Regions from separate parts of the Homo sapiens genome. Here region 1 is linked to region 2. Evidence: fine-mapped expression QTL. A gene starts in region 2. The other region holds a variant in brackets. All regions are shown on one strand. Distances are between the middles of the regions. Region 1 holds the start of CYB5R1 (cytochrome b5 reductase 1). Region 2 holds the start of KLHL12 (kelch like family member 12).

Evidence for each region.
Region 1: its variant is fine-mapped to the expression of KLHL12 in whole blood (TOPMed, PIP above 0.99).

The regions. Positions count from the first base shown.
Region 1 is chr1:202,962,228-202,978,618 of GRCh38, forward strand. CYB5R1 (cytochrome b5 reductase 1) reads right to left here and starts at 5,030. Exons shown (of 9, transcript NM_016243.3): 1 at 4,964-5,030; 2 at 4,522-4,671; 3 at 4,301-4,373; 4 at 3,660-3,766; 5 at 3,144-3,273; 6 at 2,385-2,468; 7 at 1,415-1,500; 8 at 839-938; 9 at 1-472. The coding sequence starts at 4,978. The coding sequence ends at 300. RefSeq lists silencers at 4,938-4,987, 5,058-5,217, 5,834-6,128. The variant G/A (reference allele first, on the strand shown) is at 6,732.
Region 2 is chr1:202,917,655-202,934,045 of GRCh38, forward strand. It overlaps KLHL12 (kelch like family member 12), which reads right to left and starts at 9,580. Exons shown (of 12, transcript NM_021633.4): 1 at 9,435-9,580; 2 at 7,314-7,553; 3 at 2,101-2,254; 4 at 517-734. The coding sequence starts at 7,508. RefSeq lists enhancers at 9,723-9,772, 10,849-11,350, 11,351-11,850.

The DNA.
Region 1 (16,391 bases), 45 kb after region 2:
CCAATCTTGGACCAAGCGTACATGCTCCCTTCCTTCTTACTCCATGGAAGAGACTGCTCCATGGGCCTCTCCTGGACCTGTTGCCACGGGGAGATTTAGGAGGCCATCCAAGGAGTGACTGAGCCTTGGCCCTCTTCCATGGCTACAGGAATATTGTTCCTGCAGGTACTATCCAGATTTCAGCTCTAGATGTAACTGAAAAAACCTGAAACTCTGAGGAAAGGAATCTAAGGCTTATAGTGCTTGAGTACTGATGGGGAACAACTGCAGCGAACAGCACCAGGGAAGCTGGAGGATGCTCAGTAGGTGAATCGCATCTTTTGTGAGTAGCCCAGTTTGTCCAAGTTGGGATGGCAGGCCAGCTGCACCATTGGGGGTGGCCCACAAAGCAGTACCAGCACATCATCCCCTGGAGCGGGCAGGTGTTCCCGGATCATGTCGGCAGTCACAAAGCCCTTGCTGTAGGCCCAATCTGAAGTATGGGGAGAAGAAAGTACTTAATACTCCAGATACATGCTGGCAAGGGGGTGTGGTGCCATGAGACTGGGGAGGGCCCTGAAAGGCTCTGGAGAAAGTGTCAAGTGGTAGCAGCAGCTGGGAATGGGTATACTCAGCCTGCCTCAAGCTGAGCCTTAGCAGCACCGCCATCCCTGTCACCCACCTGGTAAACAGGAACCCAAAGGAAAGGGACCAGGAGATCACTGTGTCTGTGCACTCAGACTTCCGAGTTGGCAGTGTGAGGCAAGGTTGATTTCAATGAAGCCAGAATTCACAAAGGGGCAAGGCTTTGATTTTGACGATGAGGGGATAGTGGGATGTCCAGAAATGGGAAGGATACCTTTTGGGGGATGATCCAGAGTGAACCAGAGCTTAAAGCGATTGGGATAGCGGGCCTGCAGTTCCTCTAAGTCCTCCCGCAAGATGATATCCTTTTCTGTCTGAAATGCAAAGGGGAAGGAAAGTCTTTAGGAGTCTTCTCAGGCCCACATAAAAAGTTTTCTGCTATACAACTTTCCAACTAAGAAAAAGAATGTTAAGGGAAAGCAAAAGTTCTAGGAAATAAGCAAGACTTGCAGTGCTTTTAGGGAGTTAGGATGAGGAGAAGAGGGGAACAGCCTTTATCTACACATTATGAAGGAACAAAGATGAATATTTAACCAAGAAGATCTAAGTTTCTGTGCTCCAGACTAGATACCTTAAAAGTTTTCTTCTTTCCTTGGGGACCAGGGAAGGAATTTGATTCAGTGCTCTGTCCTTTTCCTCCTTATTGAAAGAGGACCCTGTGCCTTACAGAGGGGACCTTGGGCAGAGGCTAAAACAGGGCACTGGGCCAGTTCTGCCCATCCATACCACGTCTCTCAGCCCTACCCACACAGCAACTTTGAAGTCTTAGGGTGGAGGAAAACAAACCAACCTGGTTGGCAAAAAGCAGAAAGCACTGGGTTGGATCTTCAGGGACTTTCAGGATGGCCCGGATCAGCTGTAGCATTGGGGTGATTCCTGCATGAAGATACCCCACAGTGAAATGTAGTGGCCACACTCTCTGCCCTGTCCTGGCTCCTTAGCTGACCAGCCCTTTCATCTTCATTCTGCTCATTCACCACTCCACTCCATTTTCCTTTAGCATTCTCATCCTCTAAACTCTTCCTGCATATTCTCCAACATCTGTATTTCCGGGCACCCTTCAAATTCATCTAAGTTCATATTGTAGAAATCTTTCTTAGGAACTAATCTAAGACTCTTCTGAAAGTCCTTTGGAGGCTAGGACTCCAGTGTCACAAATGACTACAAGTACCTCCGGATTCAATGATGAGGGTTCTAGAACACTGTATTTGCAGAGGTTAAGTGCATGTACTTAGGCACTAGGCAGAGCCAAATACTAATTTTGCTCCAGGCCATTACCAGTGAAATAACCCTGTGGAAATCATTTAGCCTCTCTGGAACCCCATTGTCTCTCTGTAAAAGGAAAAGGCTAGTACCTACTTCATAGATACCTATATATGTGTCTAATTTTTGTGTCTAATATATAGTAGTGTATTAGACTACACAGTGTCTAATGCACAGTAGTGTCCAATGCTAATTTTCTTTCTTCCTAGCTAGTCATTCCTAGCTGCTTCTCTCTTCTCTCACCTAAAACTATTAGATCCATTCAAAATGAGGAAAGCTCATTTAATTTGTTTCTCTAATTCCATCAGTTAAAATTTTTTTTGGTTTCTACCTGCTTATGATTTTGTTTTTCAGATACTAGGGAGTTCTAAGCATTGCTGGAAATCCCCTGATGAACAACAGCTTGGCTATGGTTACCAGTCTTCAGAGGGTCACCTAGGAATTTGCATGGCAACAGTCAACAATGGTGGGAGAGAAAGGCCCTCAGTGTAATGCACCTGTCCCGCCGGCAATCATTCCCAGTTTCTTCGCCACTCGGGGTTCTGGTGGAGATTTCTTGTTGGGCTGAATGTTAAAATGCCCTGAGAGGTCAGGTGAAGAGAGCAGTGGAAGAATAAAGTCAATACAGCGAACTTAGAAAACAAATGCAGAGTTGAAAATATGCCTGAGGCCAGTTGAGCAGCTGCTATGACATCTGATCCTGGAGCTTGGGTGGAAGCTTGAGTTGAGCCAGCCCTGACAATAATATAGTTGAGGGACAATGGGGCCAGGGCTATCTGTGAGTCAGTTCAGCGCCACACAATGTATCAGCTGCTTCTGGCAAAGTGTCACTCCCTGGTGAAGGAGACAGGCACAGAGCCAGGTGTGAATCTATTTTCCCAAGTGGCACACAGCAGCTCCAGGGACTTGCTAATGCACCCAGCTGTTCCCATGGGAAGGGCTGAAAGCTATCTCTGGCTCACTCCACAGCTCACCCAGGGGGGCAAATTTTTGAAGGTGGGGAAGAGGGGCACATGTTTGCTTTAGTAATCTCCACAGCTGCCATGGCTAGGGAATTCAAGTGGAGGAGGAACTGCTTCCTGTGGCAAATGGGGCTGAGAAACATGCCTTTCTATTGTATCAGCGCTATGTTTAGAAGGAAGGGCGGCCCTGGCCCTTACGTGCATACACATGTGTACACACAGCCATACTGTGCCAAGAGGACTATGGGAACTGATAAAGTGGGAGACAGGCTCAAGGAGAAGACAGGTCATTACCTTTTCCAGTGTAAGTGAGCAACCCGCTTGGCCCCCGAAACTCCACCACATCCCCAACCTTCAGGCTATCCAGGTACTGAGACATCTTCCCTCCCTCAGGAAATTTGGGGTGCACACCCTTCAGGTAGACCTTACAAGACAGAGAGAAAAATACCTTATTTGGAATGTCACTGGTTTCTGAGCCCCATGTTGACTAAACCTCCCTGAGGCTGGGGCAGGGATCAGATATGTGCTATCTTTTCCCCGTCTACATACTTTCTTTCTTTCTTTTTTTTTTTTGAGTCAGAGTTTTGCTCTTGCTGCCCAGGCTTGAGTGCAGTGGCGCAATCTTGGCTCACTGCAACCTCCGCCTCCTGGGTTCAAGTGAGTCTCCTGCCTCAGTCTCCTGAGTAGCTCATACTTTCTTCACATCCACAGAGTACATACCATTTCCTGCTGTCAGGCAAATCTTAGAAATTTCTACAAATCCCAGAAAGAATGGGTAAGCAGCCCCTGGGTCCCTTCCTAGCCCCTTACCTTGATGACAAGATCCACATAGCCTTGATCCTCATCACTGGTGACAGGAGTGTATGGCCTGATGACCAGGCTGCCATCAATTCGGGTGGAGAGGTAGATATGTTTGCCTGGGGACCGTGCAGAGAGCTACATAAGGGTTGTCTGTGATGTGCTGCATCCCTCAAAATACTCAAAGAGATTTGAGAGAACAAGATGTCTTGCTTCCTGCTGTGGTCCCAAGGAGCTACAAGGCAGGGAAGATTTGCCCCATTGAGCCCTCAGTTGGATCTCTTATAAGCGCCCAGTTGAGGAAACACTTATTTCCAGCGTTTCCTGCCAGTTACTGCCAGGACCTTGACAGATGAGCCAAAAGGGTCTGGGCAATGGGAAAAAGTTAGTAGTGCTTGCTCAGAGGGAGTAATTAGCAAATCCTGCAGGGAAGAGGCAAGACTGTTGAGTGTTAAAGCTGGATGGGGGTCATGGAAGCCACACTCTAGAGGGGCCCAGTGGCACCTCACAGCTTGGAGGATGCAGAGCCAAGTGGGGGAAGGGGAATGGTGTGTGGAGCAAACCGGTTGAAGCAGCGTGTTTCATGAGATCCCAGGAGGGGAGTCACCTTCTGAGGATACCAGGGAAAGGAGCCCATTCCACACTTTCCTTACCCACAGGCAGCCCCAGAGTGTGGTGGGCGGTGGGCAGGGCAAAGCGGAACCTCTTGGTGTTGTGGCTCACAGTCTGGAGGGTGGAGGACACAAGTGTTTCACCAAGCGCGCCTGGCGCTGCCACGTCCCTTGGACATCCCAACCACCGTGGGTGCTGTACCCTCCATGCCAGGAGCACTCTGGTCCCCTCCTTCACCCTGGCCCTTTCTTCCCCAACTTACCGTCTTGTCTAGCAGTCGTAGCAGGTACTTTTCATTGGGGTCCAGGAGAGTGACCTGAGGCCGGCGGGACCTCCGAACCAAGTAGGAGCCCACAGCCAGGCCGAGCAGAGTGACCAGCCCCACCCCCAGGGAGGCCAGCAGGACGGGGCTCTGTGGGTAGAGGAGGCAGCGTGACCGCCAGGCTGGGTAAGAGCCCGGGGCTTGGGTGGTGACCGTCCCAGGGGTGGCGATCCCGAGCTCCAGCGCGGAGGCATGCCAAGGGCAGAGGGGTAACCTGGCGGAGTCCCGAGCCCGGATGTGCGGGATCGGGACCCCAGCATCCACGGTGGGCCCAGAGCCCTGCGGGGCGGGGTCGGCAGCGACAGCCCCTGGTCCGGAGCTGAGTGGCCAGAACCAGATGGGGAGGGGTCCCCCAGTGGAGGATACTGAATGAGGGTCTTACCGTCTGGATCCCCATGACGGAGCGCCTTTTCCTCCACCACCTGACAAGCCGACAGATCCCACAATGCGCCGCGGGGCGGGTCGGAGGGCGGGGCAGGCCGGGGGCGGGGCCGGGCAGGAGGCAGGACCTCGCGGCTGGGGGGGCAGGAGGCGGGGCCTGGCGGGGGGGGGGGGGGGTGTCTGTCGGGGGCGGGGCCTAGCAGGAGGTGGCGGCGGCGGGGCCTTTTGGGGGCGGGGTCCGGCAGAGGCGGGGCTGGGCCCCTCTGCGCGCCACCCTTTCCCTCCGCTACTCGGTGGCTCAGGGTCTCCGGTGCTTATTCAATACTTTTTTTTTTTTTTTTGAGTCGGAGCCTCGCTCTGTCGCCCAGGCTGGAGTGCAGTGGCGCGATCTCGGTTACTGCAACCTCCGCCTCCCAGTTTCAAGTGGTTCTCCTGGCTCCGCCTCCCGAGTATCTGGGACTACTGGCGTGCGCCACCACGCCCGGCTAATTTTTTTTTTGTATTTTTAGTACAGACTGGGTTTCACCGTGTTGGTCAGGGTGGTCTCGAGCTCCAGGGCTCAAATAATCTACCCGCTTCGGCCTCCCAACGTGTTGGGATTACAGGCGTGAGCCATCGCGCCCGGCCCCAAGATCTTTTAAGACCGCAGCTCCAGCCTCTCCTCCCAGCGAGGTGGTCCCTGCCACTTCGACCCGCTTATATCCGAACTGGATGGGAGTTCTGCCTAAGGTAGAACCACGCTAAATTGGGGGATTGGAAATCTCTTGAGTCTGCGGGTGCTGAGCGGAGAGTGTAACGATGAACCAGAGACAGGCTCAAAGTAGAGCAGAAGGGCCTGAAGTTAATCATTGTGCAGTCACCTTAGTTTTTCAACCGGCTGAATTGCAGCAAGAGAATGGAACAGCCCAGAGGAGTCTCTTACAGGAGTGAACAGTGGCATGGCAACTTCATTTCCTTTTGACAAAAGACTGATTTTGTTTACAGCGCCAAGCCGTCAGCCTATCAGGATGATTCAGGAGCTTCCTTTGGTTTCAAAGACCAAGCTTCACATCCTGATTTGGGTTCTTGTGCCCTTAGGGTCAAAGAAGTGGGCTTTGGAGGCAGAGTGTACAGAATAAGAATCTTGCCTCTAGCACTTATTGGCTCTGTGACCTTAGATAGCTTACTCAACCTGAGTTTCTTCATCTACAGATGGATATAAGATGGATATCTACAGATGGATATATATTATTATCTACAGATAGATTGTATCTAGTTCATAGCTTTGGTGTGAGGCTTCAGTGAGATATGTTAACGTGCTTAGTGTAGTGCCTGTCATAAAGCAAAATATTCAACAGTTGGCAGCTACTATTATAACTTAAAAGACAGCACAGAGGGTCAGCTATGGTTTTAGGAATGAGCTCTGCCTGGGGCACAAGCATGGGACAGGAGGAGGCAGGAAAAAACATCAGGAGCCGCTGGAGCTACAGATTTCCCAAGATGACCATTCTTTCTCATACATGAGTTTCTCAACTAGAATGACATTTGCTCTTTGATATACCGTGATGGATGAGATCTCTGCAGATGTCAGTGTCAACATCTTAAACTAATACCATCAGGGCAGCAGGGACATTAGAGCCCCCAGTTTTCAGTTGTATTTGGTGAACTCTGTGAATGATCCAAGAGATACTTAGTTTTCCTTTTCCTCTCCACTGGCTGAAAATGTTCCTAAGACCCCAGTACATGTTCCTCTGAATTTTTTAAGCAGCCTGCACACTGACTTGAGGGAA[G/A]TGAGTGCACCAGATCATGGTGACATGCCAATCCATGCAGAGAGGGTTGAAAAGGGGAAGGAAGGGACCCTTCCTCTTTTCTGTTCCGAGAGAATGAGGCGATTATGTTCCGGTGCTTCTGACATCCCCACTGCTGGCTTGGTTAAGAAGCCACACTACTGATCCTTGCCACTGCTCCACTCTGGCTAAAGAGGTTCTAGGCCTTCCTCCCTCTAGTGGATAGATGTGGCAAGAGAGGGGGAAGTATGGAACGAAAGGAGAGCATAACTACAACTCGGGCTTCTCTCAGTGATTGCATTTTCTGAACCCCAAAGTGGCACATTCTAACAAGTGTGAGTGTATCACTGGGAACCACAGGACAGAATGGTTGGGTGTGGGCTTATCCTGGAAACTAAGTGTTGGACTCAGTAATTGTGGGAAGGCTCTTTTGCTCCTGAAAATGAATGCTGCAGGAGTGGTGGGAAGGGGCTGATGGCCTGGCAGGTCTTCCTGTCTCAGATTCTGTGGTGAATTGAACTCCACTCCACCACGACTCATGGTAATCTTACATTACTCCTAGTTTGGAGGAAAAGATAGGCATTTCTGAATTTTTATTTAACCCAATCTTTTAAGTTTAGGATTTCCTCCTGGGTATACAATAAAGAATAGAACAGGCTGGGTTCACGCCTGTAATCCCATCACTTTGGGAGGCTGGATGGATCACTTGAGCCCAGGAGTTTGAGACCAGCCTGGGCAACATGGCAAAATCCTGTCTTTACAAAAATACAAAAATTAGCCAAGTGCGATGGCGCTGGCCTGTAGTCCTAGATACTAAGGAGGCTGAGGTGGGGGTATTGCTTGAGCCTGGGAGATCAACGCTGCAGTGAGCCATGATTGCGCCACTGCACTCCAGCCTGGGCAATAGAGCAAGACCCTGTTTAAAAAAATATATATATATAATGTAGTGTGAGGGGGAAGTAGAATTTCAAACCTGTGTTTTATAATTCTGAATTAGGATGTAAAACTCAGTGGCCCTTTTTAGATAAGATATCCAGAAAGAAGCTTGGAGGAAGACTTGCTCATACTGAGGAGATGGCATGGAGGAATCAGACCAGGAGATGTAATAATGACAAAAAAATTAACATTTATTGAGCATGTGCAATATAGCAAGAACTAGGTAAATTGCTTTTCACGTATTCTGACAACATCCATTTAATCCTGACAACAACTGTGAGATAGATATTATCATTAGTAGTCTCATTTTATGGAGTGGGGGGAAACTGAAGTTTAGGACAAGTAAGTCACTTGCCCAAGATCACCTACTAAATGGCAAACTCAGACTGCATACCAGGCAGCTTGATGTTGAAAACTAACAACCTCACACCCTTTTTGAACTTTTCTTTTTTTTTTGAGACGGAGTCTTGCTCTGTCACCCAGGCTGGAGTGCAGTGGCGCAATCTCGACTCACTGCAACCTCTGCCTCCCAGGTTCAAGTGATTCTTCTGCCTCAGCCTCCTGAGTAGCTGGGATTACAGGCATGCGCCACCATCCCCGGCTAATTTTTGTACTTTTAGTAGAGACGAGGTTTCACCATGTTGGCCAGGCTGGTCTCAAACTCCTAACTTCGTGATCCGCCTGCCTCAGCCTCCCAAAGTGCTGGGATTACAGGCGTAAGCCACCGTGCCTGGCTGAACTTTTTAGTATGGAAACTATCAAACATATACAAAAGTAGACAGAACAGTATAATAAAGCCCGACGTACCCATCACCCTCTTCAACAATTATTAAATCATGGTCACCTTTCTTTCATTTCTTCCCCAGTCCGTTCCTTCCTCCAGTATTATTTTTAAGCAAATCCCATATTTTTTATAACTTTGTCCTTAAATATTTTAGTGTGTATCTTTAAAAGCTAAGGACTTAAAAATAACCATAATACCATTATCACATGTAAAAATAATTAACAACAATTACTTAGTTTCATCAGATAGCTAGTCAGTGTTCAAAGTTCCACCTGTCTCTTTTTTTTTTTTTTTTTTTTGAGATGGAGTCTCACTCTGTCGCCTAGGCTGGAGTGCAGTGGCATGATCTTGGCTCACTACCAGCTCCACCTCCCAGGTTCACGCCATTCTCCTGCCTCAGCCTCCCGAGTAGCTGGGACTACAGGCGCCCGCCACCACGCCTGGCTAATTTTTTGTATTTTTAGTAGAGACGGGGTTTCACTGTGTTAGCCAGGATAGTCTCAATCTCCTGACCTTGTGATCCATCCTCCTCGGCCTCCCAAAGTGCTGGGATTACAGGGATGAGCCGCCGTGCCCGGCCTTTTTTTTTTTTTTTTTTTTTTGAGATGGAGTCTCACTCTGTCACCCAGGCTGGAGTGCAGTGGCACGATCTCGGCTCACTGCAACCTCTGCCTCCCGGGTTCAAGAGATTCTCCTGCCTCAGCCTCCTGAGTAGCTGGGATTATAGGCGACTTCCACAGCGCCCGCCATGGCGCCTGGCTAATTTTTGTATTTTTAGTAGAGAAGGGGTTTCACCATCTTGGCCAGACTGTTCTTGAACTCCTGACATTGTGATCCACCCGGCTCGGCCTCCCAAAGTGCTGGAATTACAGGCATGAGCCACTGCGCCTGGCCCCAGCTGTCTCATTTTAAATTTGTAATTGTCATACATTAAAATAGACTCTTGGGCATACAGTTCTGTGAATTCTAGAATATGTATAGATTTGTGGCACCACTATAATCAGGAAATAGACCAGTTTGATCACCCTGCAAATCTCCCATATGCTATCCCTTTATGGCCACATCCTCCCCTTACCTTTAACTCCTGGTTATCACTGATGTGTTCCCTGTCAATACACTTTTGCCTCTTTATGAATGTCACATAAATAAAGTCTATACAATATGTAAGCTTTTGAGTGGATTTCTTTCACTCAGCATAGTTTGAGATTCATCCAAGTTATCATGTGTATTTACAGTCCATTCTTTTCATTGCTAGTAGTATTCTGTTGTATGGCTGTATCATAATTTGTTTATCCATTCATCAGCTGAAGGACATTTGAGTTATTTCCAATTTTTGGTGATGATTGAAATTGCTTTAAACATTCATGTGCAGATTTCCATGTGAACCTAGTTTTTATTTCTCTGAAATATCCACAAGTGTGATTTCCGGATCACATGGAAGGTGTATATTTAACTTTATATAAAAAGCTGCCAAACTGTTTTTCAAGGTGATTATACCATTTTGCCTTCCCACTAGCAATGGATGAGAATTCCAATTGCTGCGGCATTTTCATTAGCAATTGGTATTGTCAGCACTTTTGATTTTGGCCATTCTAATAGGCATGAAGAGGTATCTCATTGTGATTTTACTTTTTTTTTTTTGTTTTTTTGAGATAGAGTCTCCTCTGTCACCAAGCTGGAGTGCAGTGGTATGATCACGGCTCACTGCAGCCTCAACCTCCCAGGCTCCAGCGATTCTTCTACCTGAACCTCCCTGAGTAGCTGAGACCACAAGCAAGTGCCACCACTCCTGGCTAATTTTTTTAAAAGTTTTGTAAATACGAGCTTTCACTTTATTGCCCAGGCTGATCTTGAACTCCTGGGCTCAAGTGATCCTCCCGCCTTGGCCTCCTAGAGTGTTGGGATTACAGACATGAGCCACCATGCTATCCTCATTATGATTTTAATTTGCATTTATGTAATGGTTGATGATAATAAACATGTTCTTATTTGCCATCTATATATCATCTTTGGTGAAGTGTCTGTTCAAGTATTTTGCCCAGTTTTAATTGGATTGTTTTCTTCCACTTGAGTTGTGAGGGCTCTTTTTTTTTTTTTCTCTTGAGATGGAGTTTCGCTCTTGTCGCCCAGGCTGGAGTGCAATGGCACAGTCTCAGCTTGCTGCAACCTCTGCCTCCAGGGTTCAAGCGATTCTCCGGCCTCAGCCTCCCAAGTTAGCTGGAATTACAGGTGCCCGCCACCATGCCCAGCTAATTTTTGTATTTTTAGTAGAGATGGGGTTTCACCATGCTGGCCAGGCCAGTCTCAAACTCCTGACCTGAAGTGATCCGCCCGCTTCGGCCTCCCAAAGTGCCAGGATTATAGACATGAGCCACCACGCCCGGCTGAGAGTTCTTTATATATTCTGAATACAAAACTCCTTGTTGGATATTGCAAATATTTTATTTCAGCCTGTAGCTTGTCTTTCCATTGTCTTAAAGTGTCTTTTGCACTGAGAAGGTTTTCAGTTTTGTTGAAGTCCAATTTATCAAATTTTTTTTTTTAGATGAAGTCTCTCTCTGTTGTCCAAGCTGGAGTGCAGTGGCACGATCTTGGCTCACTGCAACCTCCGCCTCCCGGGTTCAAGTGATTCTCCTTCCTCAGCCTCCCGAGTAGCTGGGACTACAGGCATGCGCCACTATACCCAGCTAATTTTTGTATTTTTAGTAGAGACAGGGTTTCACTATGTTGACTAGGCTGGTCCAATCTATCAATTCTTTAAATGCAGCATGCTGCACATTTAAAGTGTCACATCGGAGAACACTTTGCCTAACCCCAAGTTATAAAGATTTTATCCTATATTTTCTTCTAAAAGTTGTATAGCTTTGTGGTTTACATTTCTATCCATGATCTATTTTAAATTTTATTTTGCATGAAGTATAAGGTTTAGGTTATGGTTTGTTTATTTTTGTATACAGATGTTCTTTTGTTCCAGCTTCTTTTGTAGAAAAGACTATCCTTTCTCCACTGAGCTGCTTTTGCACTCTCCTCAAAAATCAGTTGGTATATTTTTGTGGGTCTATTTATGATTTCTGTGTTCTGTTATATTGAACTATGTGTCTGTCCCTTCATGAATACCATACTGTCTTGATTCCTGTAGCTTTATAGTAGGTCTTGAAATTAGATAGTGTGATTACTCCAACTTTATTCTTCTTTTCCAACATTGTTTTAACTATTCTGGTTCTTTGCCTTTCTATATAGATTGAGATTAGCTTGTCTAATCTCAATTCCAAAAGAATTCTGCTGGGATTTCAATTGGAACTGTGTTAAATCTATACATCAGTATAGAAGAGAATGAGATCTTTATTATGTTAAGTTTTCAGATCCATGAATGTAATGTTTCCATTTCTTTAGGTCTTTTAAAATTTCTTTCATTAGTATCTAATAATTTTCAACATACACATTCTGTAGATGTTTTGTTAGACTTATACTTAAGTTTTGGCACAACATTTAGTTATAAACAATAAGAAACTTGAAGAAAATTGCTAGATATAAGATGAAGCTAAAATAGAATGAAGTCCATTTCACCATAATTATTAAATATACATTGATAGTTTAATATCAACAGAAAATACAAAGTACCCAGGAAATAAAAATAACAAAGGAGGTACAGAACTCTTATGAGAAAATTATCAAATTTCCTTAAATGACATGCAAAGAAGCCTTCCCATTTCAGTGGATGGCAACTCCATCCTTCCAGTAGTTTGGACAAAAACTTTGCAGTTATCCTTACTCCTCTTCTCAATGCTTACAACCAATTTTCGGAAAATTCTTTTGGTTTCGTCTTCAAAATATATTCAACATTTGGCTGTTTTCACCACTTCCATTGCCACCACTCTGGTCTAAACCATCATCTTTTCTTGCCTGGATTCCTGCAGAAGCATCCTCATTGGCCCTGTTTCCATCCTTGTTCCTCTGTAATCTAGTCTCTACATAGTAGGCAGAGTATTACTTTTATAACTTCAGCCAGATCATGCCAAACCCTTCACTCGAAACCCTGCAATTCTTCTGCTTCACACTTGTTTATCTTCATTGTCTGTCTCCCGCTTTAGTATGTAAGCTCCATGAGGGTTACAAACTTGGTCTGTTTACCGATGAACCTCAAGTGGCTAGGATAATGCAAATAATAAAAGAGGCAATTATTTGCTCTAGGAAAAATATTACACATAAAATATAATCACAGATCACTACTGCTTAATCAAGAGGTCAAACAATTCCCAAACACAGTGAAGCTTCTAGACTGACTTGCCACATCTCCATAAATCCAGTCGGTAAGGAAACAGTGGGTCCTTTAGCACCCATGGCACAGCAGGCAGCATGGGCTTAACAGTTCCCCTTTCCCTGAAAGTTCCAAGAGGGAACTTGGTGAGCGGTAGCAATGTTGAGTGGGCCTGGGTGGATGCTGAGCGCACAGTGCATCTGTCTCATAGCTGAGAAATGCTATGCTTAGGAAACCCCCAGTCTTATAAGGGGACCACTAGCAAGCCTACCCAATCTTTGCCCCACAGGGAGACATTATCTTTATTTTTCTGGTTAGCAAAGAAATCTCTGGGGAGGGAGAAGTGGGGAGATCTTAGTATTCCTTAATATGGCTGGAGGACCATGCCTCTAAATTTCTCCCAGAGGGAGTCACTGTCTTAATAAACAAATCTGCCCTCTGCAAAAGGAAGACACTACCTTTAGCTTCTAAGGCTGTTTGCTGCCCAAACATCCTGGAAAAGATAGTCTGAGATGTACAAATTCTTTGGAGAATTGTCCCACAACTACTTGTTCAGCAGTGAATATTTTACAAAAGCATCATAATGTAATCATTGATTTAACTATATTGAAAGAATGGGGCTGGGTGAGGTGGCTTACACCTGTAATCCCAACACGTTGGGAGGCCAAGGCAGGTGGATCACTTGAGGCCAGGAGTTTGAGACCAGCCTGGCCAACATGGTAAAACCTCGTCTCTACTAAAAGTACAAAAATTAGCCAGGCATAGTGGTGGGTGCCTGTAATCCCAGCTACTCGGGAGGCTGAGGCACAAGAATCGCTTGAACCCAGGAGGTGGAGGTTGCAGTAAGCTGAGATTGTGCCACTGCCCTCCAGCCTGGGTGACAGAGTAAAACTCTGTCTTAAAAAAAAAAAAAAAAAAAAAGAAAGAAAAGAAAAGAAAAGAAAGAATAGGAGAAAGATAAATGGATATTTGTTGACTTGGATAAAAGGACATGTCCTAACATGACAAGGAATTGTCTATAAAACAAACATTTTAAAATGGCAGTTTAAGTATGTTATTTAGAAAGATGGATGCAACACTAGAAGAAATAGTAGAAAGCCTTATAGTTATGTTTAGGGAACAGAACTAGGGCCAAGGGAGGTGGGGCTGTTTTTCTCTTTCTCTCCCCTTCCTCCCTTCCTTCCCTCCTTCCCTCCTTCCCTCTTTTCCTCTTTCCTTCCTTCCTTCCTTCCCTCCCCCCCTCCTTCCTTCCTTCCTTCCTCCCTTCCTTTCTCTCTTTCTCTCTTCCTTTCTCCCTTCCTTCCTTCCTTTTTTCTTTCTTTCTTTCTTTCTTTTCTGTCTTTCTACAGAGTTTCGCTCTTGTCGCCCAGGCTGGAGTGCAGTGGCGTGATGTCGGCTCACTGCAACCTCCGCCTCCCAGGTTCAAGCGATTCTCCTGCCTCAGCCTCCTGAGTAGCTGGGATTACAGGCATGTGCCACCTGGCTAATTTTGTATTTTTAGTAGAGATAGGGTTTCTCCATGCTGGTCAGGCTGGTCTCTAACCCCCAACCTCAGGTGATCCGCCTGCCTCGGCCTCCCAAAGTGCTGGGATTACAGGCATGAGCCACCGTGCCCAGCTGGGGCAGTTTTTCATTATAATCCTTTTGTTGCTATTTTTTTTTTTTAATCTCCAGTGATCTATGATCATGCCTCATTGAACCTGACCGATCAGCAGCCTTTGATCCAGCTAATTATTACCTGCTTTTGAAGCACTGTCTTCACAGTACACTCAATGGTTTTCCTCCTACCTCTGTATCTACCCTTTCCCACTCTCTTTTCTTGGTCCCCCTTCATCTGCTCTACCTCTTAATGTTGAAATGATCCAGGGCTCCGTCCTTGCTAATCTCATGGCTTTATATGGTGACAAATTGCAAATTGTGCAATCAGGAAGTCATTAGAAATCGTGACAAGAACAAGTTTGGTTGAGTGGTAGAGGTAAAATCTTGGTTGGAGGGAGTCTGAGAGAGAAGTTCATAGATTTATAAAATATAGGTATAATCCTTTCAAGGATTCAGATTATTTTTACACTATAAATCCCAAGTAAAACCTTATATTATTGACCAAACACAAATCTAAATGTAAAGACTTTACATTCATGAATTCTGTCCCTTATAGATATTTCTCCAGACATGTTTTATGTACCATGACTTATTCGTCAAACTAGTGGTTTTGCCTTTTGTGGTAGAAATAATTTCTTTTGACCTATCTGCTGTTTGAAAAATCTATTCTCTCCTTGCATCATTTGAACACTCTCTGCTTGTAGTACAATTGTTTAAATGTGGTCTCACCCTGTCACGAAAGCTGTTGCTGATTTATCAAAGAGCAGGGTTTCTCAACCTTGGTGCTACTGACATTTTGGGCTGGTCAATTCTTTGTTGTCAAGGGCTGTTCTGCCCATTATAGTTTGCTTAGCAGTATGAACGAAAAGTATCCAAGACAGGTCTCGATCAACTTAGAAAGTTTATTTTGCCAAGGTTAGGGATGCACCTGTGACACAGCCTCAGGAGGTCCCGACTACATGTCCCAAGGTGGTCAGAACACAGCTTGGTTTTATACATTTTAGGGAGACATGAGACATCAATCAATACATGTAAGATGTACTTTGGTTTGGTCTGGAAAGGCAGGACAACTTGAAGCAGGGGCTTCCAAGTCATAGGTAGATAAGAGACAAATGGTTGCATTATTTTGAGTCTTCAATCAGCTTTTCACTGAATATGCAATTTACATGTGAGGTGGGGGTAGAGGAATGATCACTTATGCCTTAATTTGGCTCAATGAATCTGCATTTTTACATAAACAAGAAGGCAGAGGGAGCCATCAGATGCGCATTTGTCTCAGGTGAGCAGGATGAGTTTGAGTTCTTTGTCCCGCACCTGTGAAGAGAAGCTATCAATGTACTTTGCCAAGGTGAAATTCAACAGAACTGTTTTAGGGTAAAGATCCTGAGGCCCACAAGGAATTTCCTTGCAGGCAAATTGTGAGGAAAGTATGTAGCTTCAAAAAACAAAAATCTTTGTAGCTATCTTATTTAGGAATAAAATGGGAGGCAGGGCTGGGTACGGTGGCTCCTGCCTATAATCCCAGCACTTAGGGAGGCTGAGGCGGGTGGATTGCCTGGGGTCAGGGGTTCAAGACCAGCCTGGCCAACATGGTGAAACTCCGTCTCTACTGAAAATACAAAAATTAGCTGGGCCTGGTGGTGGGGACCCGTAATCCCAGCTACCTGGGAGGCTAAAACAGGAGAATTGCTTGAACCTGGGGGGCAGAGGTTGCAGTGAGCCGAGATTGTGCCACTGCACTCCAGCCTGGGCAACAAGAGGAAAAACTCGGTCAAAAAAAAAAAAAAAAAAAAAAAAAAGGAGGGAGGCAGGTTTGTCTGACTGACACAGTTCCCAGCTTGACTTTTCCCTTTGGCTTAGTGATTTTGGGGTCCTGAGATTTATTCTCTGTTCACAGCAGCATCCCCAGCTATTGCACTAGATGTCAATAGTATCTTCTAGCTGTGACAACCAAAAATATCTCCAGACATTGCCAAATGTCCCCAGGGGGGGAAATTGCTCCTGATTGAGAACCACGGTTGAAAAAAGGACCCTGGAACAATGGAATGCAGGGAGGCTTGGAAGAAGGTATATGTAGGGCGATGGT
Region 2 (16,391 bases):
TTTATTCTTCTTTCTTCTATGTAATGTCCTTACTTTGTATAGGCTCACTATTCTCATGATCCTCTTTATAACATTTTTTTTGTCTATATCTCTGTCTCTACTAGCAGGTTGTGAATTTTCTGAAAGCAAGAACTATATTTACCCACTTGGGGATCTGTAGCACCTGGCATAGTTAAGTGCTACATAGTAGATATTCTCAATAAATGTTTGTGAAATGAGTGAACGGGTAATAGAGAAGTGGTCTACAGATACCTACTTTACTTCCAATTTCTGCTTATTCTATACTCTGTTGAATAGTGATTCTTACCCACTGGGATCATATATCTAATTGAAGAAAGTGGCAAACTCCCTCTCCATAAAAATGCAAATAAATTTGGTACAGGAGGGGTTAATGAAATCTTTGAGCCAAAATGCACACTTAATTATGAAGCCCTGATGGTAAGTAACTGCATCCTATTTGCAAGTTTTGTAATTGCCCAATCTTGAAGAAACCATAACATCAAGACAAATCCGTACCTGAATTTCGTCGCACTTGATTAGCTTTTCCACCTCTCCTTGACTCAGAAGAATGAACTCTTCATGCTGTACCACTTCAGGAAAATGCTTCTGGCTAAAAACCTCAGCTGCTTGCATCAGGTCAACACAATTGTGGGTTTCAGCAAAATCCCTAATACCCAGGCAATTAGAAGGGTCCAACTGACTTTCTAAGAACTCACAGCAGGCTTGTTTCACACCTAGGACAGACACAGGCAGCAAACACTTTAGAATAGTTGGACAGGTGTGATCTAGGATATATTCTTGTATCTCAGCATCTTCTCTACATGTTATCAGATGAACCCTTGTTTCAACACCTAAGAAACAGATTAGAAATTCTATGCTTAAGGAACTTAAACTCTATTTCTGGCTTATGTACTGTGCCACTTTCAGCAAGACCTTTACACCTGTCTCTGCTTAATCTTTAAAATGAGTATTGCAAGATGAATCACATCCAGAGACCTGGCACAATTCAACAAAAATGCCTATAAAACTCTTGGGAATCAAACTATAAAACCAATTGCGAATTCAGCATAATGTATCCATTTTCTACTCTACATGAAAACTTACTAAAAGACTAGAGTGAAAGAAAAGGAGAAGATAGTAATAACAAATCTCATATTTATCTAATTGAAAAGTTCAGAGTATTTTAATGTTATGGCTATGCACTAATGCAAAAGCTTCACACTGTTTAAATCATGTATTAAAAACTAAAAGTGTGTCAATTATGTATATATAAAAACTGAAAACATAACTGAATGTTAAAAAAGAAAAACTGGGGACCAGGAACGGTGGCTCGTGCCTATAATTCCAGCATTCTGGGAGGCAAGGTGGGAGGATCACTCGAGCCCACGAGCTTGAGACCAGCCTGAGCAACATAGAGAGAACTCATCTCCACACAAAAAAATTTTGTTTTAATTAGCTGGGTGTGGTGGCATGCACCTGTGGTCCCAGCTACTCAGGAGGCTGAGGTGTGAGAATTGCTTGAGCCCAAGAATTCAAGGATACAGTGAGCTGTGATTGCACCACTGTGCTCTAATCTGGGTGACAGAGTGAGACTCTGTCTCAAAAACAAAACAAAAAACCTGGGAATTGTAAGGGAAAACAAACCACCTGTAATCCTGTGAAAATATCATACTTTAATATTTTGTGCATCAATTTAAATTTCATGTATCTTAATGAAATACTACCACTTAATGGCCAGATAGATAAAGAGTATCCATGTAGGCTATGTATAGTATCACTTTTTTATTATATTTCCTTATAGGTGTGTTACATACATGTATGTAAGAAAACACATAATTTCTCCTTCCTCCATTTTTTTTTTAAAACAGAAAAGGTGCAAATGCTCTCTTTTATAGAGCCAAATACTCATATCTGGAGAAGTTCCTTTATAGTGCTATTGACATCTGATCTCTTATTGCTCAATGAGACAAAAGCCATGGCCAGCAAACATGAACATCCATAGTTTGTCTCCAAAATGTTCATGATTAAGTTTACACTATTAATTTTCAACCTTTCCAGGGCTATTTTGACATAAACAATAGCAAGTTTTAATGTCTGTACCTTTCAACTGAAGCAGACAGGCTGCAGGAAGCAGTTCTTGTACATTCTCCACTGTCACATGTACTGTTTCTGTGTACACAAAGTCCAATAAAATTTCCATGGTAGAGGCAGTCAAACCTTGGATGTCAACATAAGGTTTCCCCTTCTCTGAGAGCTGAAAATTCAAAAGGTATAAAAGAATGATGGTTATAATTCCACAAGATAAAGGCAGAATCTCATATCTAAGAGCTTAGAGATGTTAATAATATTAATTGAACATTTATCTTTAAAAATTACAGGCCAGGCGTGGTGGCTCATGCCTGTAATCCCAGCACTTTGAGAGGCTAAGGCAGGCAAATCACCTGAGGTCAGGAATTCAAGACCAGCCTGGCCAACACAGTGAAACCCCGTCTCCACTAGAAATACAAAAATTAGTTGGGCATGGTGGCACATGCCTGTAGTCCCAGCTACTCAGGAGGCTGAGGCAGGAGAATTGCTTCAACCCAGGAGGCGAAGGTTGCAGAGAGCCAAGATTGTGCCACTCCACTCCAGCCTGGGCACCAGAGTGAGACTCCATTTCAAAAAAATAAAAAAGAAAGAAAATAAAAAAATAAAATTATGCTCTATTTTGTTGGATTTTTTTTTTTTTTTTTTTTTTTTTGAGACGGAATCTTGCACTGTTTCCCAGGCTGGAGTGCAGTGGTGCCATCTCGGCTCACTGCAAGCTCCACCTCCTGGGTTCATGCCATTCTCCTGGCTCAGCCTCCCGAGTAGTTTGGACTACAGGCGCCCGCCACCACGCCCGGCTAATTTTTTGTACTTTTAGTAGAGACGGGGTTTCACCGTGTTAGCCAGGATGGTCTCGATCTCCTCACCTCGTGATCCGCCTGCCTCAGCCTCCCAAAGTGCTGGGATTACAGGCGTGAGCCACCGCGCCCGGCCAATTTTGTTGGATTTTAATAAAGCAAATATGGCACATTATCTGTAGCTTTCCAAATGAAGTAGGTAGTTATCTATACGCCAGGAATAAGTAATAGGTAACACCTTCCTGGAATAGTAATTTTGCCAGTGAATAACTTTAAAAATCTATTTCATATTAAAATACAGATGTATTTACAGAATAGAATGCAAAAGTTCCATGAACATAACACTGGTCCGTGAACTTTTAAGATAAGACACAATATTTCAAAGAAATTTCATGTTCGTAGAGGAGCCTGTGGGTTATAACTCCAGTCTCTCCAGGACTACCTAGTTCCTATCATCTGTCCTTAGACTACTTTTTTTTCCCCTTTGTTGAGATAGGGTCTTGCTCTGTTCCCCAGGCTGGAGTGCAGTGGTGTGATCTCAGCTCACTGCAACCTCTGCCTCCCAGGTTCAAGTGTTTCTCGTGCCTCAGCCTCCCAAGTAGCTGGGATTACAGGAGTACACCACTACAACCAGCTAATTTTTTTTTTTTTTTTTGACACAGTCTTGCTCTGTTGCCCAGGCTGGAGTGCAGTGGCGTAATCTTGGCTCACTTCAAGCTCCACCTCCCAGGTTCAAGCGATTCTCCTGCCTCAGCCGCCTGAGTAGCTGGGACTACAGGCACATGCCACCATGCCTGGCTAATTTTTGTGTTTTTAGTAGAGATGGGGTTTCACCATGTTGGCCAGGCTGGTCTTGAACTCCTGACCTCAAGTGATCTGCCCACCTCAGCCTCTCAAAATGCTGGGATTACAGGCGTGAGCCACCATGCCCGGCCCTTAGACTGCATTTAGTAATGACGAAAAAGAACATGCAGGTCATCCTAAGGGACTTTCTTATGTAACATCATCTGAATACAAATAAATTATTTGTTACTTTTTCAAAATATTGGGTTAGACTAACTGAATTGTTAGCAGTATATTTAGTCTAAATTGTTAGTAGTATATCTTCTTGAAGCTATGAGTATTGATGAGGCCAGATAATCATAGAAAACTGTTTAGCTAAGAGAAGAAATCTTCAATTTTACAGGAAACTATCTGAAAATACCTTATGAAAATTTTACTAGATCTTAATCTTAGTTTAGAAATTCATTTTACTTAAAAAACTCTGGTGCATCTCCATTATTAACTAAATGGCTTTAACGTTTTTTATTTCTCCATCAGCCAGAGAATAACCAAAAAGCACTCTCTACCAAAGCCAAGAACAAAATCAATCCCTAACACTAAAAAAGTCACTAGCACATTATTTTGAAAAAACATATTAGGTTTTATTAACATTTAATACAGTACTAATATTCATAAACAATTACTATCCCAACACATTAAATGCATTTAATAATTATGGTACTGAAATATGTAAGTACATGTATTCCAGAAATTTCTCATTCAATAAACTACATTTCCATCAAATAGTTTAAATATGGAAACAATTTCACTATGTAAGAACTTAGAGCAATTATACATTTTACAGTTATATTTTGCTTTAGAATTTTTCAGCATGCTTCTCATTTACTACTATTTCATCTGATTCTCACAGCAACCTGGTAAGGTAGTTAGGTCTGATATTATTACTATCTAAGAGATAAAGGGGGGCCGGGCACATGGCTCAAGCCTGTAATCCCAGCACTTTGGGAGGCCGAGGTGGGTGGATCACAAGGTCAGGATATCGAGACCATCCTGGCTAACATGGTGAAACCCCGTCTCCACTAAAAATACAAAAAATTAGCCAGGCGTCAAGGAAAAAAAAAAAAAGAGAGAGCGATAAAGGGTCTAAAGATCAAAGAAGATCCAAGACTTTTTTTTTTTTTTGAGACAGAGTCTCGCTCTGTCACCCAGGCTGGAGTGCAGTGGCGTGATCTGGGCTCACTGCCAGCTCCGCCTCCCGGGTTCACGCCATTCTCCTGCCTCAGCCTCCCGAGTGGCTGGGACTACAGGCGCCCGCCACCACGCACGGCTAATTTTTTGTATTTTTAGTAGAGACGGGGTTTCACCGTGTTAGCCAGGATGGTCTTGATCTCCTGACCTCGTGATCCACCTGCTTCGGCCTCCCAAAGTGCTGGGATTACAGGCGTGAGCCACCACGCCCAGCTGAAGATCCAAGACTTAACCAGTCACTTAGCTAGTAAGAGACAGATATCATTCTTATTAAAGTATTTCAGGAAAAAAAAAAGAGAGAGAGAGAGAGACAAAACCCAGGTCCTCCTGCCTCAGTCTTTGTGATCTTTCAATCAGATGACATTTGAGGAGCATTTCATAGCTGAAGAGAACAAGGAAACCATCTAGTTCAACTACTTTATTTTACAGATCAACCCAGTGAAGTTAGATGGTTCCCAGGGTTTATACAGAATTGCTAAGAGAACTAAGCCTAGAATCCAGGTCTCTGGACTCTCTCCTTTGAACAATTACTCTCAAAAATAAAGACAAAACCATCTAGCATTTCCTTGCCTGATGTCAGTTTTTAAAGAAAGAAATCATCACTGATGAGAAAAAAAGAATTCATTTCCAAATAACAAAAGAGTAAAGACACTATTTTCAAGCTGACAAAAAACAGGATGCACAACATATAATTAGCAATCAGCCGTTCTAGTTCATTTCTTGCTCAGCAGCTGCTGGGTGACACTCTCTTTACCCAGTTAAATTCCAAATGCTTCTGATGATCTTGGGTATATCTCATGGAGAACAGTATAGGACAGGGATCTGCCTTGGTATATCACACAAGTTTATTTAAAAATTAGCCTGAATTAGTTGGAATGACCTGTCAGGTTCCTGTTTTCCCTACTAGCCATGTGACTGAGCATTGGCTCATAGTATTTTTAACTATACCAGTTTTAAAATTAGATTGTAGTATATAAAATTCATACTTCGGAGGCTAAGGCGGCACAAGAGTTACAAACTGTTTGGGCTTTAGAGTTGGAAAATATAAAATGAAATCCCACCTCTAGCACTTACAAGCCATGGGACTTTGGGCAAGTGATTTAATATCTGAAACCCTATTCCTTCATTTGTAAAATGAGATGGTAATACCTACCCCTAGGGTGAGTCAGATATGCACAACAATTACTAGCACAGTACCTGGCCCATAAAAGGTAGTTATTACCATCACAGAATACGCCTCTCCCATTCTGATTCAGCAGCAATATCTACACTAAGATGATAGAACTAACTAAAAAAAAAACAAAAAACAAACAAAAAACTTGTGCTTAAAAAGACTTTTAAAACAGTGTTTTCATAATGAAATATTTCAGGCATACATGTAAGTGTAAATTATATAATAAACAGTGATGCACCCACAACTGAGCTTTGAAAAAATAAATCAAGATAATTTATTTAAATCTGCTCTTAAAATGAGACTTGGGATCTTGAAAAACAAAGATTTGCAATGTTATTTTCTGTTCAGCTTTCTAAGAATATTCAACACAATATATTCAGCAGCCTTACTATACATTTCAAGTATTTTGTCAGGCAATTACTAAGTAGTGTTTCTTAATACTTTGTGAGCACTACCTGTATTCTCTCAAGCCAACCTTTTCCTAATTCCCTTTGTTAAGTGCTTATGAGTTAACATCCTTTCTCAGGTTATACACTCAACGCCTGTACAGCTATTCATTAAAAACTCTTCTTCCTTTCATTTGAAGTTATCCTAAAATTTACACTGATTTTCTTCACATATTGTTAGGAGGAGTGGGATGTGGTTTGAATCCTACTCCTCTCTCCTTCCTTCCTCCTTATCCCTCTGGTATTCACTTAAAAATTTTTAAACTTTAGAAGGAAAAAAGGCTGGATGCCGTGGCTCACACCTGTAATGCCAGGTGTGGCCACTCTGGGAGGCCAAGGCAGGAGGATTGCTTGAGCCCAGGAGTTCAAGACCAGCGTGGGCAACATAGTGAGACCCTGTCTCTACAAATAAATAAATAAAATTAAAAACAAAAAAAGGAGAAAAATTGGAAGACAAATTTAAGAAATAGTAAAATCCAATAGCTGACATGTGTGTTTTACTACATATTACACTATTCTAAGCACTTCCTATGTTATTTCATAAAATAATCTTCACAACAACCTTAATAACCATGTGTTACATATTACTATTATCCCTAACTTAAAGATGAGGAAACTAAGGCATAGTCATCTAAGTGGTAGATCTTATCCAGAATCTGCCAAAACATCACACTGTAAAAATTCAAAATTATATCAAACTTCCACTATTTTATTCAGTGAAATTAGACAACTAGAGTTCCACGGGTTTCATTTGTGTGGGGCTAATTTACCACTTACCTCACTAGTGAACATGGCACAGAAGTAATCACTACAGGCAGCCAGCACAATCCGATGGGCAGGGAAGTCTTTCTGCTCTACTCTCAATGTCACATCACAGAGGGTATTGCTCTTCCTGAGGGAGTTCATTGAATTGAGGATGGATTTAGCATGAGTATTTGTCATTATGTCTTTGGGGGCCATAATGCCTCCCATAAAGCAGTGCGGAGAAAGAACAAAATGGGTCCTTGGATTCTGCAACTACAAGAGGGAAAAAAAAACAATGAGCATATTCAAAGAACTAGGGCAACTGAACATATTTAATTAGCTTTACAAATTAAGAACCTAAGAGGCTTCCTCAGACCCAAACATACACAAGTTGAGGGCACTCCTATGCCTGGCATCACCACCAACCACTAGCCACTATCTAGTCCATGTAAAAGCTCTCTCTTCTTCCTCTGAATTCCTCTATCACGGAGTGTCCCTACCACTTGACATTTAATATGATCAATGCTGAAATGTAAGTAGAGATAAACAATATATGTCTTGTAAATCTTGACAAGGTTCTTGTCTCAAATGATAAACCGAAAATATAAAATTTCTTAAAGGTGTTATATTATTACTATTTAATGTCCTTAAGTAGATAAGTATTTAGAGCATACATAAAAAGAGGATCCTGCTTTATATGTATGCTTTCTATCCTAGAAGTTGCACAATAAATGTTTAGAATTTAATGTAAGAAAAAGTGTGTATTCAACTTCAACTTAGAGCAAGAAAGGCCACTCAGTAAAAATAAACTTTTTTCTAAAGAAGTATCCAAATGATATGTCTGATGACTTCCAAACATATCTGGATTTCTTCTTAAAATGAAACTTCAGGCCGGGCCCAACAGCTCACTCCTGTAATCCCAGCACTTTAGGAGGCTGAGGTGGGTGATCAGTTGAGGTCAGGAGTTTGAGAGCAGCCTGGCCAACATGGTGAAACCTAGTCTCTACTAAAAATACAAAAAATAGCCAGGCGTGGTGATGCGCGCCTATAATCCTAGCTACCAAGAAGGCTGAGGCCCGAGAATCACTTGAACCCAGGAGGTGGAGGTTGCAGTGAGCCGAGATCACACCACTGCACTCCAGCCTGGGCAACAGAGCGAGACTCTGTCTCAAAAAAAAAAAAAAAAAAAGAAACTTCAATTGAGGACCCATTACCTACACTGAATAATGGAAACCACGCAAGTTATCGATGGACTTACACTTGCTTAAGATATTGAAGCTCTTCAACAAGAGGGTATTCCTACTCTACATCTGTGAATGTCCATTACTGTTAAAGAATCGATATTGGAATCCAAAACTTTCTGAAATGATCCGGGGGGAAGGAAATCAAACTGTGGTCTCCAAAAGTCCACAAGTCACAATTAATCTTTCAACAGGAAAAATGAGATCCTAAATTCTCATCTACTTCTGTTTGTAGTTGGCATTTTACTCTATAAGCACTATAGATAATTCCTCCAACAACTCTGCAAGACCCATTTTACAGAAAAGCGGGTGATTCATCAAAGCATATGTTTTTCAAAAAGACTTAAGTCAACTTAGTTGCAACTCTAGGGGTGTAAAAAGGTCTAGAACAAATGTCCATTTACTATGAAGACAGCCCGGGGGGTCTTTTATCGTTTCCGTGTCAAAATGACAGTACCCCGGTGCAGAGTGGTCTTCCTTCTAGGGGATTCCTGCCTCAACACTCCAAGTCTCAGCATATCCTTCATCCTCACCCTTCTGAAGTGACCTATTTTCTAGAACTTTCGTTAACATCTGAATGGAGGGATTCCACTTCGGGAGATTCGGGGCAGGGAATGGGTAGTAAACTCGGGAAAGACTAAATTCTAGAGAAGGAAACGAAGTCCTTCCTCCTAATACCACCAGGCATATGGCCGCCACCGCCAGGTGGAGGTATCGGAGAGGGGCAGTTCAGGGGGAGAGTTGAGAGGGTGACCGAGGCCAGATGCCCCACCCCACTGCCAGCCTTCCTCCTCTGTTGGGCATGTCTCCCATTCCGCCTTGCAGGGAGACCAAGGATGGGGGGTAGGGCCATAACCCGGAGTTGACGGACAGGAAGGGAAGGGCTGACTGCCATCACTTCCGCGCAACTCACCTCCGCTCCCGAACCCACACAGCCGCACCGGGCCCGTCCCCAGCCTGTGGGGATGGAGTGCGGCGCGGGGCTAGCAGGCGGCTCGGGAGGAGCCGAAGCGCCGCCCAGACCCGGAGGCTCTGGAGGCTCTGGAGCCGTCCGGGTCTGGCCCCTGCGGCCGCGCGACGTGATGACGCAATGCAGCTGGAGCACCGCCCTCCCCCCGCTCCAGAGTCTGCGTCACGTGAGGAGGTGGTGTCACGTGACCTGTCTGTACCCTAGCGCGGGGCTTCTGTACGCTGCTAGGAAGCCGAATTACAAAAAGGTCGGGTGGGCAGGGAATGGTGGCTCACGCCTATAATCCCGGCACTTTGGCAGGCCGAGGCGAGCGAATTACCTGAGCTCCGGAGTTCCAGACCCGCCTGGGGATCACGGCAAAACCCCGTTTCTACAAAAAAAAAAAAAAAAAAAAAATTAGCCCGCACCGCGCCTGTAGTCCCAGCTACTCGAGAGGCTGACAGGAGGATCACTTGAGCCAGGCAGCAGAGGTTGCAGTGAGCCAGGATCGCCACTGCACTCCAGCCTGGGCCACAGAATGAGACCCTGTAAAAAAAAAAAAAAAAAAAAAATGTCCAGGCGTGGTGGCTCACGCCTGTAATCCCGGCACTTTGGGAGGCCGAGGCGGGTGTATTACTTGAGGTCAGGAGTTCGAGACCAGCCTGGCCAACATGGTGAAACCCTATCTCTACTGAAAATACAAAAAAATTAGCCGGGCGTTGTGGCACGCGCCTGTAATCCCAACTACTCAGGAGGCTAATGCAGGAGAATCGCTAGAACCTGGGAGGCGGAGGTTGCTGAGCCGAGATCGCGCCATTGCACTCCGGGCTGGGCGACCGACTGAGACTCTGTCTCTTAAAAAAAAAAAAAAAAGGCCAGGCGAGGTGGCTCACGCCTGTAATCCCAGCACTTTGGGAGGCCGAGACGGGTGGATCACGAGGTCAGGAGATCGATTCTGGCTAACACGGTGAAACCCCGTCTCCACTAAAAATACAAAAAAATTGGCTGGGCGTAGTGGCGGGCGCCAGTAGTCCCAGCTACTCGGGAAGCTGAGGCAGGAGAATGGCGTGAACCCGGGAGGCGGAGGTTGCAGTGAGCTGAGATCGCGCCACTGTACTCCAGCCTGGGCGACAGAGCAAGACTCCGTCTCAAAAAAAAAAAAAAGAAAAAAGAAAAAAAAGAAAAAACAAAAAAAAGGCTGGATGTTGTGGGGTCCGGCAGGGAGCCTGGGAATGTATCTACAGCTCGGCGATTGGCTGAGCCTGAGTTCCTCCCTACCGCTCACTAGGCAGGGCAGGCAGAGAGAATTCCAACGCTTAATATGCCAAGCATCTGATTGCAGCAAGTATGTTTTACCTTCCAGGTACTGAGGAACTTTTTGACATCGAGAAAACCCACAGAGGCCTCAAATTTATTCACGTCCATTGTCCACAATGGCCTTTTCGGGCCGAACAACGCTGCGGCGAGAATCCTCTGAGCCTTAGGATCCACAGACCTCAGTATATACTCTGCATCATAATGGGCCCTGTCATCACCACTGAATTGATTCTAAGGAAATTCTAATTGATTCAGGAAATTCTAATTTATTTTGGTGCACTTAGTGACTGAAAAGGCAAAAAGCTTAATTAGTTCAGCTTATCTGAATGTCTAGACAAATTGTGTTTGGTAATACTATTATGCTCTGTGAGCCCTTTGATTCTTTTTTTTTTTTTTTTTTTTTTTTGAGACGGACTCTTGCTCTGTCGCCGAGGCTCGAGTGCACTGGCGCGATCTCAGCTCACTGCAACCTCCGCCTCCCGGGTTCAAGCAATTCTCCTGCCTCAGCCTCTCCGAGTAGCTGGGAGTACAGGTGCACACCACCACGCCCGACTAATTTTTGTGTTTTTAATAGAGACGGTGTTTCGCCATCTTGGCCGGGCTGGTCTCGAATTCCTGACCTCGTGATCCGCCCGCCTTGGCCTCCTAAAGTGCTGGGATTACAGGCGTCAGCCACAGCGCCTAGCCCTTTGATTCTTAAGGGTACTAAAACCATAGCCAAGTGGGTAGCATTCTAAATTTACAACGTGTCCCCATCTTCCATGTCATACCTTCCTGATCTAAAACTGTCCCTGACTCACACATTGTAGAGAAGAATGCAAGATTGGTATATTATTGGGGGCATTTTGGAAATATTCGTCGATTTTAATAAAATTTTCCTTCACATATACTCGTGCACATGTAAAACGATGTATGTACAAGATTGTTAACTGCAGCATTGTTTGTAGATTAGATCAACAACAACATTAAATGTCCATTAATAGGGGACTGATTCAATAAGGTATAGTACATCCATAAAATCCAATACCATGAAGCTGTGAACAATTTATATACTCTATTATTGGTGTAAAAAGGTGGAAGATATATTCATATTTGCTTGTGTATGTGTAACATGTATTTGAAAAGACAAAGTGGTAACCTTGGTTTCTTTGGGGAAAGGAACTGTTTGGTTGTGAGACAGGGTGGGAAGGAGATTTTTGCTCTTTGTAATTTATTTTGCCTTTTGAATTTTGCTTCATATGAATTAAAAATAATGTTCAGAGCCTGGTGCGGTGGTGTACACCTACCTGTTGTCCTATCTGCTTTGGAGACTGAAGCAGGAAGATTGCTTGAGCCCCGAAGTTCGTGACCAGCCTGGGCAACGTAGCAAGAGCACGCCTCAAAATATATTTATATGTTCAATTTTTTAAAAAGTAAAAATAGGCTGGGCACAGTGGCTCACGCCTGTAATCCTAACACTTCGAGAGGCCGAGGCGGGCGGATCACCTGAGGTCAGGAGTTCCAGACTGGCCTGGCCAACGTGGCAAAACCCCGTCACTACTAAAAATAAAAAAATTAGCCAGTCATGGTGGCCTGCGCCTGAAATCCCAGCTACTCAGGAGGCTGAGGCCGGAGAATCGCTTGAACCCAGGGAGCAGAGGTTGCAGTGAGCTGAGATCACGCCACTGCACTCCAGCCTGGGCAACAGAGCAAGGCTCCATCTCAAATAAATAAATAAATTAATTAAATTAAATAAAAAGTAAAAATAATTCCTTGTTTTCAGGATGTAAAATAGTACTTTAATGATATTGCCTAATTCCTGACTGTTAAATTAAGGATTTTTCCAAATATGAGAAGGAACTTAATAATAAAAGAGGCTTTGTTTAGAGTATGCCTACTCCTTTTATTCACAAAATAAAAGATGGAGAAGTTGTTAGCAAGATTATCACACCAAAGGAACTAGTTCAGACTTCTGACTTTTTTCTTCTTTTATTTCCTCTTTTTTGTTAATATTTGTCGGTACATAGTAGGTGTATATATTTAGGGGGTACAGAGGGATTTTGATACAGGCATATAATGTGTACTAATCACATCACAGAAAGTTGGGTATCCATCCCCTCAAGCGTTTATCCTTTGTGTTAAAACAATCCAAGTATACTTTTAGTTATTTTAAAATGTACAATTCAATTATTATTGACTATACTTACCCTGTTCTATCAAATACTAGGTCTTATTCATTCTTTCTAGTTTTTCGGTACCCGTTACCCTCCCCACCTTCCCCCAACCCCCACTGTCCTTCCCAGCCTCTGGTAATCATCCTTCTACTCTCTATCTTTGTGAGTTCAATTGGTTGGTTTTTAGATCCCACAAATCAGTGAGAACATGCGATGCTTGTCTTTCTGTGCCTGGTTTATTTCACTTAACATAATGACCTTCAGTTTGATTCATGTTGCTGCAAATGACAGAATCTCATTATTTTTAATGACTGAATAGTACTCCATCATGAATAAGTACCACATTTTCTTTATCCATTCATCTGTTGATGGACACTTGGGTTGCTTCCAAATCTTAGCTATTGTGAACACTGCTGCAACAAACATGGGAGTGCAGATATCTCTATGATACACTGATTTACTTTCTTTTCTTTTTTTTGAGACAGAGTCTCACTCTGTTGCCCATGCTGGAGTGCAGTGGTGTGATCTCGGCTCACTGTAACCTCCGCCTCCCAGGTTCAAGCAATTTTTCTGCCTCAGCCTCCCAAGTAGCTGGGACTACAGGTGCAGGCCACCATGCCTGGCTAATTTTTGTATTTTTAGTAGAGACAAGGTTTCACATATTGGCCAGGCTGGTCTCAAACTCCTGACCTCATGATCTGCCCACCTCAGCCTCCCAAAGTGCTGGGATTACAGGCATGAGCCACCACACACAGTTGATTTACTTTCTTTTGGGTATATACACAGTAGTTGGATTGCTGGATTGTATGGTAGTTCTAGATTTAGTTTTCTGAGGCGCCTCCAAACTGTTCTCCATAGTGGTTGCACTAATTTACATTTCCACCAATAGTGTACAAGGGTTCCCTTTTCTCCACATTGTTGCCAGCATTTGTTATTGCCTGACTTCTGCATAAAAGCCATTTTAACTGGGATGAGATGATATCTCATGTAATTTTGATTTGCATTTCTCTGATTAATTATGTTGAGCACCTCTTCTTATGCCTGTTTACCATTTTTATGTCTTTTTTTGAGAAATGTCTAAATATTTTGCCCAACTTTTATTTTTTAAATATTTATTTATTTATTTTGAGACAGGGTGTTATTCTGTCACCCAGACTGGAGTGCAGTGGTACGATCTCGGCTCACTGCAACTGCTACTCCTCAATGCTGGGCTCTAGCGATCCTCCCACCTTAGTCTCCTGAGTAGCTAGTATTGCGGATGCATGCCACCATGCTCTGTTAATTAAAAAAAAAATTATTTTTTATGAGAAGAGGTCTCACTATATTGCCCAGACTGGTCTGGAACTCTGGACTAAGCAATCCACCTGCCTCAGCCTCCCAAAGTTGGGATTACAGGTGTGAGCCACTGCACCTGGCCTTAACCAGATATAATCAGATTATTAGATTTTTTTCTATAGAGTTGTTTGAGCCCCTTATATATTCTAGTTATTCATCCCTTATCAGATGGGTAATTTGAAAATATTTTCTCCCATTCTGTGGATTGTCTCTTCACTTTATTGATGGTTTCCTTTGCTGTGCAGAATCTTGTTAACTTGATGGGATCCCATTTGCCCATTTTTGCTTTGGTTTCTTGTATTCATGCAGTATTACTCAAGAAATTTTTTCCAACCCCACTGGAAACAAGAATCTTTAAAAAAAAAAATAAAGAAATTTTTGCCCAGACCAATGTCCTGGAGATTTTCCCCAAAGTTTTCTTATAGTGGTTTCATAGTTTGAGGTCTTAGATTTAAGTCTTTAATCCATGTTGATTTGATTTTTGCATATGGTGAGAGATAGGGGTCTAGTTTCATTCTTTTGCATGTGGATATCCAGTTCCCCCAATACCATTTATTGAAGAGACTCTTTTTCCCAGTGTATGTTCTTTGGCAGCTTTGTCGAAAATGAATTCATCATAGGTATGCGGATTTGTTTCTGGATTCTCTGTTGTGTTCCATTGTTCTCTCTGTGTGTTTTTATGACAGTACCATGCTGTTTTGGTTACTATAGCTCTGTAGTATAATTTGAAGTCAGGTAATGTGATTTGTCCCATTTTATTCTTTTTGCTCAGGATAGATTTGGCTACTCTAGGTCTTTTGTGCTTTCATATACATTTGAGGATTGTTTATGTTTCTGTGAAGAATGTTACTGGTATTTTAGAGATTGCATTGAATCTGTAGATTGCTTTGGGTAATATGGACATTTTAACAATATTGATTCTCCCAATCCATGAACATGGAATATCTTTTTATTTTTTGATGTTTTCTTCAATTTCTTTCATCAGTGTTTTATAGTTTTCATTGTAGAGATTTTTTATTTCTTTTTCTTTTTTTTTTTTTGAGATGGAGTCTTACTCTGTTGCCCAGGCTGGAGTGCAGTGGCATGATCTCGGACTACAAGCTCCGCCTCCCGGGTTCACACCATTCTCCTGCTTCAGCCTCCCAAGTAGCTGGGACTACAGGTGCCCACCACCGTGTTAGCCAGGGTGGTCTCGATCTCCTGACCTTGTGATCCACCCGCCTCGGCCTCCCAAAGTTCTGGGATTACAGGCATGAGCCACCGTGCCCGGCCAAGATTTTTTATTTCTTTGGTTAATTCCTTGGTATTTAATTTGTGGTTATTGCAAATAGGATTACTTTTTTTTATTTATTTTTCAGATTGCTTGCTGTTGGCATATAGAAATGCTACTGATTTTTGTATGTTGATTTTGTATCTTGAGACTTTACTGAATTTATCAGTTCTAATAGTTTTTTGGTGGAGTCTTTAGGTTTTTCCAAATGTAAGATCATGTCATCTGCACGCAAAGATAATTTGACTTTTTCCTTTCCAATTTGGATGGCTTTATTTCTTTTTCTTGTCTGATTGCTCTAACTAGGACTTCCAGTACTATATTGAATAACAGTGGTGAAAGTGGGCATCTTTTCAGGTTCCAGATCTAAGAGGAAAGGCTCTCAGTTCGATACAAGCTGTAGGTCTGTCATATACAGCTTTTATTATATTGAGGTATGTTCCTTCTATCCTTAGTCTTTTGACAGTTTTTATCATGAAGGGATGTTAAACTTTATCAAATGCTTTTTCAGCATTAATTGGAAGGATCATATGATTTCATTCTGTTGACATGATATATCACATTGACTGATTTGCATATGTTGAATCATCCTTGCATCCCTTGGAAAATCCCACTTGGTCATGATGAATGATCTTTTTAATGTATTGTTGAATTAGGTTTGAAAGTATTTTGTTAAGAATGTTTGCATCAATATTCATCAGATATGTTGGCCTGTAGTTTTCTTTCTTTCTTTCTTTCTTTCTTTCTTTCTTTCTTTCTTTCTTTCTTTCTTTTTTTTTTTTGATGTGTCTTTGTCTGGTTTTGGTATCAGGGTAATACTGGCCTTGTACAATGAGTTTGGAAGTA